Regions from separate parts of the Homo sapiens genome. Here region 2 is linked to region 1. The links come from fine-mapping of genetic effects on gene expression. A gene starts in region 1. The other region holds a variant in brackets. All regions are shown on one strand. Distances are between the middles of the regions.

What was found. PIP is the estimated chance that this variant, and not a neighbour inherited with it, causes the effect. A credible set is the group of variants that fine-mapping cannot tell apart.
Region 2: its variant is the best candidate, but not a certain one, in a credible set for the expression of GNMT in blood mononuclear cells (TOPMed, PIP 0.59).

Annotation. Positions count from the first base shown.
Region 1 is chr6:42,958,824-42,963,202 of GRCh38, forward strand. GNMT (glycine N-methyltransferase) reads left to right here and starts at 1,931. Exons shown (of 6, transcript NM_018960.6): 1 at 1,931-2,150; 2 at 3,389-3,516; 3 at 3,939-4,055; 4 at 4,249-4,379. The coding sequence starts at 1,945. It overlaps CNPY3-GNMT (CNPY3-GNMT readthrough), which reads left to right. Exons shown (of 5, transcript NR_134892.2): 2 at 3,389-3,516; 3 at 3,939-4,055. RefSeq lists enhancers at 1,650-2,151, 2,330-2,379.
Region 2 is chr6:42,936,691-42,941,069 of GRCh38, forward strand. CNPY3 (canopy FGF signaling regulator 3) reads left to right here. Exons shown (of 6, transcript NM_006586.5): 4 at 1,027-1,149; 5 at 1,400-1,517; 6 at 1,878-2,604. The coding sequence ends at 2,101. The region is part of intron 1 of CNPY3-GNMT (CNPY3-GNMT readthrough); the gene reads left to right. LINC02976 (long intergenic non-protein coding RNA 2976) reads left to right here and starts at 3,803. Exons shown (of 5, transcript NR_186646.1): 1 at 3,803-3,916; 2 at 4,083-4,239. RefSeq lists an enhancer at 1,914-2,416. The variant G/T (reference allele first, on the strand shown) is at 1,956.

The DNA.
Region 1 (4,379 bases):
TGCAACCTCTGCCACCCGGGTTCAAGCGATTCTCCTGGCTTAGCCTCCCAAGTAGCTGGGATTACAGGCACGTGCCACCATGCCTGGCTAATTTTTGTATTTTTAGTAGAGACAGGGTTTTAGCATCTTGGCCAGGCTGATCTTGAACTCCTGACCACGTGATCCACCTGTCTTGGCTTCCTAAAGTGCTGGACAGTTTGATTTTTAAAGGCTAAACCTCCCCAGGCTCCAAGGAGCACTGGGGCCAAACAGTACCAAAGGAGAGCATCACCCGTTAACCAGGCCCCCTGCTTAGAAGAGTAGCACAGACCGGGCGCTGTGGCTCACACCTATAATCCCAGCACTTTGGGAGGCCGACGCCAGTGGATCACGAGGTCAGGAGTTTGAGACCAGCCTGACCAACATGGTGAAACCCTGCCTCTTCTAAAAATACAAAAATTAGCCGGGCGTGGTGGTGAGCGCCTGTAATACCAGCTACTCAGGAGGCTGAGGCAGGAGAATTGCTTGAATCTGGGAGGCGGAGATTGCAGTGAGCTGAGATTGCACCACGGCACTCCAGCCTGGCGACAGAGCGAGACTGTGTCTCAAAACAAAAACAAAAACAAAAAAAAACCCTGCAGTTGCTTCCATGTTTAGGCGCTGCCCACCAAGGGTCCCAAGTTGGAAAGGAAGGAGGAGAGAGGCAGAGAGAGAGAGAGAGAGAGAGAGAGAGAGAGAAGCGCGAGAGCGGCCCTGTAATTGAGCAGAAAGGAAAGGGAGAAAAATGAATCCCAAACTTTGGGCTTACCTCTTTCTGCTGGCTGGCTCGCCAAAATATGTTAACGGTAGAGGATGTCCAGGTTCTTGGCATCTTGAACAAACAATTGGACAAAATGCACAAACAAAGCAAGAAAGGAATGAAGGATTTTATTGAAAATGAAAGTACACTCCACAGTGTGGGAGCGAGCATGAGCATAGGGGCTCAAAGGCCCTGTTACATTTTGTGAGTTTAAATACCCTCTACTTGGGGTACACCCTATGTAAATGAAGAGGATGAAGTAAAGTTACAGTTACAAAGTTATTAATGGCGGGCATACGCCCTATGGAGAGGATATTTCCCGTTATAACTGAAGTGTGAATTGGCCTTATGTTCCCTGTCTCTAGACCCTATTCTCCTGCTTCCTGTGAAAGCAGAGGGTTTTGTTTGTTTTTTGCTTTTTGTTTTTTGAGACGGAGTCTTGCTCTGTTGCCCAGGCTGGAGTGCAGTGGTGCACTCGGCTCACTGCAACTTCCGCCTTCCCGGGTTCAAGCGATTCTCCTGGCTCAGCCTCCGGAGTAGCTAGGACTACAGGCGCGTGTCACCATGTCCCAGCTAATCTTTCTTTATTTTTAGTAGAGACGTGTTAGCCAGGTTTCACCGTGTTACCGTGTTACCGTATTCCAGCCGGGCTCCGCCCCTGGATTCGGTGGACAGACCAGCTTTACCTCCAGAGACTCCCCCTGTCTTCCCTGCACCGGCTGACTATACCTACACACTTCGGTGGCACAATCTTTGTTTAGATATGCTGATGCCTTCCTTCGCTGGGAACGGTCCAGTCCTGCCCGCCTGGCGCTCAGCTCTGCGGATCTCAGGGGATGGAGTGGCAATCTCATTGCTCCCGCCTCTCCTGACCCCTCTCGCCTTCTCCTCGAGACCCGGGTTAAGTGGGCAGAGGGCTCCGAGGGTCCTCTCCCGCCGTGGGATTGCACAGAGGGCTGGGTCCGCAGGCTGGCTAAAAGGACCTAGCCCAGGATTGCGAGGCAGCGCCCTCCCTGCAGCTGGACAGACTCGGGCGCCCGGCCCAAAGCCCGGCAGGGGCGTGTCCGCGCGCTCACCTGCTATTGGCCAGGTGGGGCTGTCGGCTGCCAGCAGTGCTTATGCTTTAAGTGCGGAGCGGGTGGCTGCGGAGCCAGGCGCGGCGCAGGATGGTGGACAGCGTGTACCGGACCCGCTCCCTGGGGGTGGCGGCCGAAGGGCTCCCGGACCAGTACGCGGACGGGGAGGCGGCGCGCGTGTGGCAGCTGTATATCGGAGACACCCGCAGCCGCACCGCCGAGTACAAGGCATGGCTGCTTGGGCTGCTGCGCCAGCACGGCTGCCAGCGGGTGCTCGACGTAGCCTGTGGCACTGGGTGAGCCCAGGCCGGGGCCGGGGGCGTTGCATGAGATCGGGGTCTGTCTCAGCCTGTACTGCGCGGCCGCAGAACCACAGGGCCGGGCACGTCAGGGCGGCCTTTGCCAATCCTGGAACGGGTGGGACACCAGGGCCAGGAGCAGGTACCTGCCCGGCAGAACAGGCACTGCGAGTGCCCCGTGAGGCTAGGGGTCCAGGTAGCGGTTCGCAGGGAGAGGCCCCGGAGAAGGGAGACTGAGTGTGAGTGAGGGTGTGGGCAGAAAAAGTGAGCGTCCCTGAGGCTTTGGAGCCAGAGCCACGGACAGATTGCAAATATTCCTCCTGTGATGGCCTTGGGCAGTGTTAACAGTTAACATTGCTCAACATTTGCACCTGCCAAGCCCAGTGCCAGGAGCTTTTGATACATCACTTTTTCAAACCCTCACAAAGCCCCATGAAGTTAAGCAGTGATATTCTCTCATTTACTACTGGGGAAGTAAGGCCTCAGCAAAGTAAAATTCCCTCATACATCATCCAGTGAAAAGGAGCTAACAGGCCCGGGTTGGTTAAGATCTGTCCTGTGCTCTATTTTTCTCTTTTTTTTTTTTTTTTTTTTTGAGATGAAGTCGTGCTCTGTCGCCCAGGCTGGAGTGCAGTGGCTCCATCTCGGCTCACTGCAAGCTCCGCCTCCTGAGTTCATGCCATTCTCCTGCCTCAGCCTCCCGAGTAGCTGGGACTACAGGCGCCTGCCACCACGCCCAGCTAATATTTTGTATTTTTAGTAGAGACGGGGTTTCGCCGTGTTAGCCAGGATGGTCTCGATCTCCTGACCTTGTGATCTGCCCACCTCGGCCTCCCAAAGTGCTGGGATTACAGGCATGAGCCACCGCGCCCGGCTTTGTCCTGTGCTCTAAACCACCATGTTCTACTGCCTTTTGTGCACACGTATTTTAACTTCAAGGAGCCTCAGCTTGTCTGTCTCTCAAATGGGAATGACACTATTTACCTCTCAGGATTGCCATGAGAATTAATGCATATTTGTAGAGTGCCTGGCTCTGAAGAGGTGCTTTTAAAAAAAAGTTGCCTTGTGGTGACAGGAAACAGATTTGTGAGGTCAGTGGAGAGGGCCTGGGGAGAGGAGGCAGAGGAACGGACTCTGAGAAGTAGAGACAAAAGTGTCCAGTGCAGGGTCTCCTCCTGGCCCTCCCAGGCTCCCCTAACTGCCTCTCTCTGCCTCTCCTCGCTGGCCGTACTCAGGGTGGACTCCATTATGCTGGTGGAAGAGGGCTTCAGTGTGACGAGTGTGGATGCCAGTGACAAGATGCTGAAGTATGCACTTAAGGAGCGCTGGAACCGGCGGCACGAGCCCGCCTTCGACAAGTGGGGTATGCAGGTCTAGCCAGGCTCCCCCAGCCCAGTCACCAGGAACACTGTTCATTCTGCCTGGGGCTCCTTTAAGTGGGGGCGGGGGTGGAGTGTTGTGTTTTCCTCGGGGAGACAGAAAAATTACTGTCATTTCTCTGAAAAGCAAGTCTTAAGCTCCAGAATGAGACACCGGGTGTGAAGAGCTGGTTTTAACTGTGTTTGTGGCATCTTGTCCCTCCCCTCAAAGAAAAACCCATAAGCACAGAGCCCTCCTTCCCAACCAGGGTTCCTTCTCCCTTGATCCCTCTTTTCTCCTCCCCCTAACTGAACGGGGAGCTTGTGTGTCTTAAGAAGAAACCCAGGCAGGACTGCACTTGGTGGAGGTGGCTGCTACTGGTACCATCGTGCCTCCCTGATTCCTCTTTCTCTTCCTGACCCCTAGTCATCGAAGAAGCCAACTGGATGACTCTGGACAAAGATGTGCCCCAGTCAGCAGAGGGTGGCTTTGATGCTGTCATCTGCCTTGGAAACAGTTTCGCTCACTTGCCAGACTGCAAAGGTAAGAGAGGGTGTGGCCTTGGGCATGGCCCCCGCCTTGAGGCCCCCTTCCACAGACATCTGGCACCTGCTCTCCTGCCAAAGCAGACTCTCTGCCTTGGCTCTGGCACCCCTGGGGAGGGGAGAGATGGGAGGGAGACTGGTGCTGGGGGCCCTGAGCAGATGGAGTCTTTCTGCCCGTGCCTGGAGCTCAGGGGACCAGAGTGAGCACCGGCTGGCGCTGAAAAACATTGCGAGCATGGTGCGGGCAGGGGGCCTACTGGTCATTGATCATCGCAACTACGACCACATCCTCAGTACAGGCTGTGCACCCCCAGGGAAGAAC
Region 2 (4,379 bases), 22 kb before region 1:
ACGCCCGACTAATTTTTGTGTTTTTTAGTAGAAACGGGGTTTCACCATGCTGGCCAGGGGGTCTCGAACTCCTGACCTCAGGTGATCAGCCCACCTTGGCCTCTCAAAGTGCTGGGATTACAGGCATGAGCCACTGCACCCAGCCCTTCAAGGTATAAGTAAAAAGGGCAAGTGCAAAATAGTGTGTATGCTATACCACTGCTTGTGTAAAAAGGCGGGGGGAGGATATATTTAGATATTGGTATTTGTATGAGTTATCTCTGGGAAAATAGAGGAAATGGATAGTATGTTTTCTCTGGGGATAAGACCTAGGCAGCTAGCAGAGATAGTTTTTACAGAATAAAGGGTCTACCTGCCTCAGCTATGCCTTTTTCCCACTGAGGAAAGACACAACCCAGGAAGAACGGAACAGCAGGTCTGGATGATATGGGAGTGTTTCCAGCCATAGTGAGGGGAAAGAGCTAAGACAAACCTATTTCCTGGAAAAGAAGCATAAAGCCAAAGGGCCTGAGGGCAGCCGCAGGTCTTTTTGAAGCGATGAGGTGTGCAGAGGCAGATCAGGGGGTATATGTGCAGGGGTTGTGGGAAGCAGGCCTAAAAGAGGGAAGAGGAAGGTCAGGTCAAGGATGAGGCCAGGTGCGGTGGCTCACGCCTGTAATCTCAGCACTTTGGGAGGCTGAGGTGAGTGGAAAACTTGATGCTAGGAGTTCGAGACCAGCCTGACCAACATGACAAAACCCCAACTCTACAAAAATTAGCCGGGTATGGTGGCACGCCTTTGTAGTCCCAGCTGCTTGGGAGGCTGAAGCAGGAAAATCGCTTGAACCTGGGAGGCAGAGGTTGCAGTGAGCTGAGACGCTCCAACCTGGGCGACAGAGTGAGACTCCTTCTCAAAAAAAAAAGGATGAGGATCCTTAGAGGGCGTTGAGCATTGGTCTTATAGCTGGGTTCTTAGCCACCACTGGGAGACGAGGGTGGGAGGGAGAGAAGGGAGCTCCGCCTGCCATATCTGGTCGCTTCTTCCAGGGCATGTCAGAGACCTTTGAGACATTACACAACCTGGTACACAAAGGGGTCAAGGTGGTGATGGACATCCCCTATGAGCTGTGGAACGAGACTTCTGCAGAGGTGGCTGACCTCAAGAAGCAGGTACAGGCCCTTCAGCCCTTGGAAGGGTTGCTGTGCCCAGTGAGGGGCTGGTGGGGATTGGGTCTGCTCTGAGGAAGTCCACCCAGGCCGGGGTGGCTTTGGTCAGGTCATTTCACCTCTCTGGCCTCAGTTTCCTTAGGTGAACCGCTGCCACTGCCTACCTTGCAGTGGGTTGCGAGGCTTAGCTGAGCTCCTCTAGGAGCGAGTCAGGTGCTGGGGCTTTGCCAATATGAGGTATTATGATTAACAGTGTGATGTGCTGGTGGAAGAGTTTGAGGAGGTGATCGAGGACTGGTACAGGAACCACCAGGAGGAAGACCTGACTGAATTCCTCTGCGCCAACCACGTGCTGAAGGGAAAAGACACCAGTGAGTTTGGGGAAGCAAGGGCAGGCTGGCTCTGGATGATTTGTTTGCTCTCCCTTGGGGGAGGTGGGTAGGAGGAGAAACAGAGGGCACCAGAGGGCATTGTAGGATCTCTGCCCTTGAAAGGCTTGATTGGCAAGACATGGTGAAGTAAGAGTCACTGAAACCAGGTGCAGAATGATGGGCAGACAAGTCAGATGCCCCCAGAGGGGCCTGGTGGCCACAGCGAGAGGCAGGAGGCAGGGAGGCTGATGTCAAGCACAGTCCCAGTTGCTACTCCCACGGCTCCCTGCTCAGTGCTCCTTGCCCAGCACCCCAGCCCTGAGGCACTTCTGTTGAGGGTCTCTCTCCTCCACACCCTAGGTTGCCTGGCAGAGCAGTGGTCCGGCAAGAAGGGAGACACAGCTGCCCTGGGAGGGAAGAAGTCCAAGAAGAAGAGCA[G/T]CAGGGCCAAGGCAGCAGGCGGCAGGAGTAGCAGCAGCAAACAAAGGAAGGAGCTGGGTGGCCTTGAGGGAGACCCCAGCCCCGAGGAGGATGAGGGCATCCAGAAGGCATCCCCTCTCACACACAGCCCCCCTGATGAGCTCTGAGCCCACCCAGCATCCTCTGTCCTGAGACCCCTGATTTTGAAGCTGAGGAGTCAGGGGCATGGCTCTGGCAGGCCGGGATGGCCCCGCAGCCTTCAGCCCCTCCTTGCCTTGGCTGTGCCCTCTTCTGCCAAGGAAAGACACAAGCCCCAGGAAGAACTCAGAGCCGTCATGGGTAGCCCACGCCGTCCTTTCCCCTCCCCAAGTGTTTCTCTCCTGACCCAGGGTTCAGGCAGGCCTTGTGGTTTCAGGACTGCAAGGACTCCAGTGTGAACTCAGGAGGGGCAGGTGTCAGAACTGGGCACCAGGACTGGAGCCCCCTCCGGAGACCAAACTCACCATCCCTCAGTCCTCCCCAACAGGGTACTAGGACTGCAGCCCCCTGTAGCTCCTCTCTGCTTACCCCTCCTGTGGACACCTTGCACTCTGCCTGGCCCTTCCCAGAGCCCAAAGAGTAAAAATGTTCTGGTTCTGATTTCTGAGTCCTCTGCAGCCCTCAGAGGTGCCCTGGAGCCTCTTGTTCTTTCCTGCCCCTCGCCTTCCAGCCCGTGGGGCTGAGGAGGGGAAGGCTAAAACCCACCCACTCTCGGGAGCAGCAAGTGCTGGGAAGGCCCAGGGTTGTCTTGGGGTGAGGGGAGGCATGGGCATAGGATGAGGCCCAGGGCAGTGCACTGACCTTACGCTGCTCCCTCGTGTCCTGGACACCTGGCTGCCGTTCCCTCCCTCCCTCTCTCCTGCTGCTCCTCTTCCCAAGGCCTCCCATTTGTTGTGTAAAATGCAGTGTTTACCTGGCCAGCTCCCGCCCCTGTTCCTACTTCCACCTGGCCTTGACTGTTGGTCCTGAACCTTGTTTTCTGATGACCACACTTGATCACTCTGAGGTTCCTAGCTGTTGTACCTGGAGTGCAGTTGGGAGGACACCCGGTTCCCAACACCATCTGGTCACACCATGTTCCTCAGGGCCAAGGGAGGAGCAGAGAGGCTGGCCTCTAGGGAGAAGGGGTGGGGAAGCTCAGGCACCTCCCAGTTTGTCCTGAAGGCAGGGATCGGGGCAATTGGTACAGTAGTGATGACAATTGTATGTATTCAAATTGTATGCTTTAACTTTTACTATTACCACACTCTTGTGAGGTGTGCTGTTAACCTCATTGTGTAGAGGAGAAAACAGGCTAGAGTCAAGTGATATGCTTGGAGTCAGGTGACCTTGGAGTCAAGGTCCTGCTGTTAAGGAGTGGTATAGCTGGGACGCAGACACTGGCGTTCAGATTACAAATCCATGGTACTTCCACTCTCCACAGCTGCCAGGGCCTCTTCCCCCAACCCCTGGCACTGACAGTGTGAGTTGTATCGAACTGGTTTAGTTTCTTGGCCTTAACCTGTCACCACCACCAAGATTCTTTTTGTTTTGTTTTGTTTTGTTTTGTTTTTTTGAGGCGGAATCTCACTCTGTTGCCCAGGCTGGAGTGCAGTGGTGTGATCTTGGCTCACTGCATCGTCTGCCTCCCGGGTTCAAGCAATTCTCTGCCTTAGCCTCCCGAGTAGCTGGGATTACAGGCACCTGCCACCACGCCCAGCTAATTTTTTTGTATTTGTAGTAGAGACGGGGTTTCACCATCTTGGCCAGGATAGTTTTGAACTCCTGACCTCATGATCCATCTGCCTCGGCTTCCCAAAGTGTTGGGATTACAGGTGGGAGCCACTGCGCCTGGCCTAACCACCACCAAGATTCCTAAAAGGCGAATAGGAAGCAGCTGTGGCTTATTGGAAGGAAAGAATGGCAGCAAGTCCTGGGGGAGCTGTGCCCGCACCAGATCTCCCGTGAGCACCCACACTGCAACTCTACCTCACACTTCCAGGCTAGGCCCAGTGGGTAGGAGGGATACACTGCTGAAGCCTCCCTGCGTCCATTGCAGCGGCTCTGGGGGCTGAACTGGGAGTGAGGGGCCCCCTCATAGCCTGGTCCCAGCCTCTCCCCCTCTACCAGGTTAGGGCAGCCAAGGCCATAGAGAGTGGAACAGAATGGAATCTGTCTCTCCTTAAGCTGTTGAGGATGACGCCAGGTCCTGGGAAAATGATACTGTCTTGGTCCAGCCTCCACCTCTGCATCTCCAGGACTGATGTTCCCCCTGTTAAAGGAGCTGGTGAGCAGTGAGATTACAGTCTAGATGCAGGTCTTGTCCTGGACTTTGTTCTGAGCATAGAAAATGGCTGGGGGTGAGGTGGAGGGGCTGGTACCCAGGGCAGGGATGTGTTTCCTGCCCCCTGAACTGTCTAGGATTTG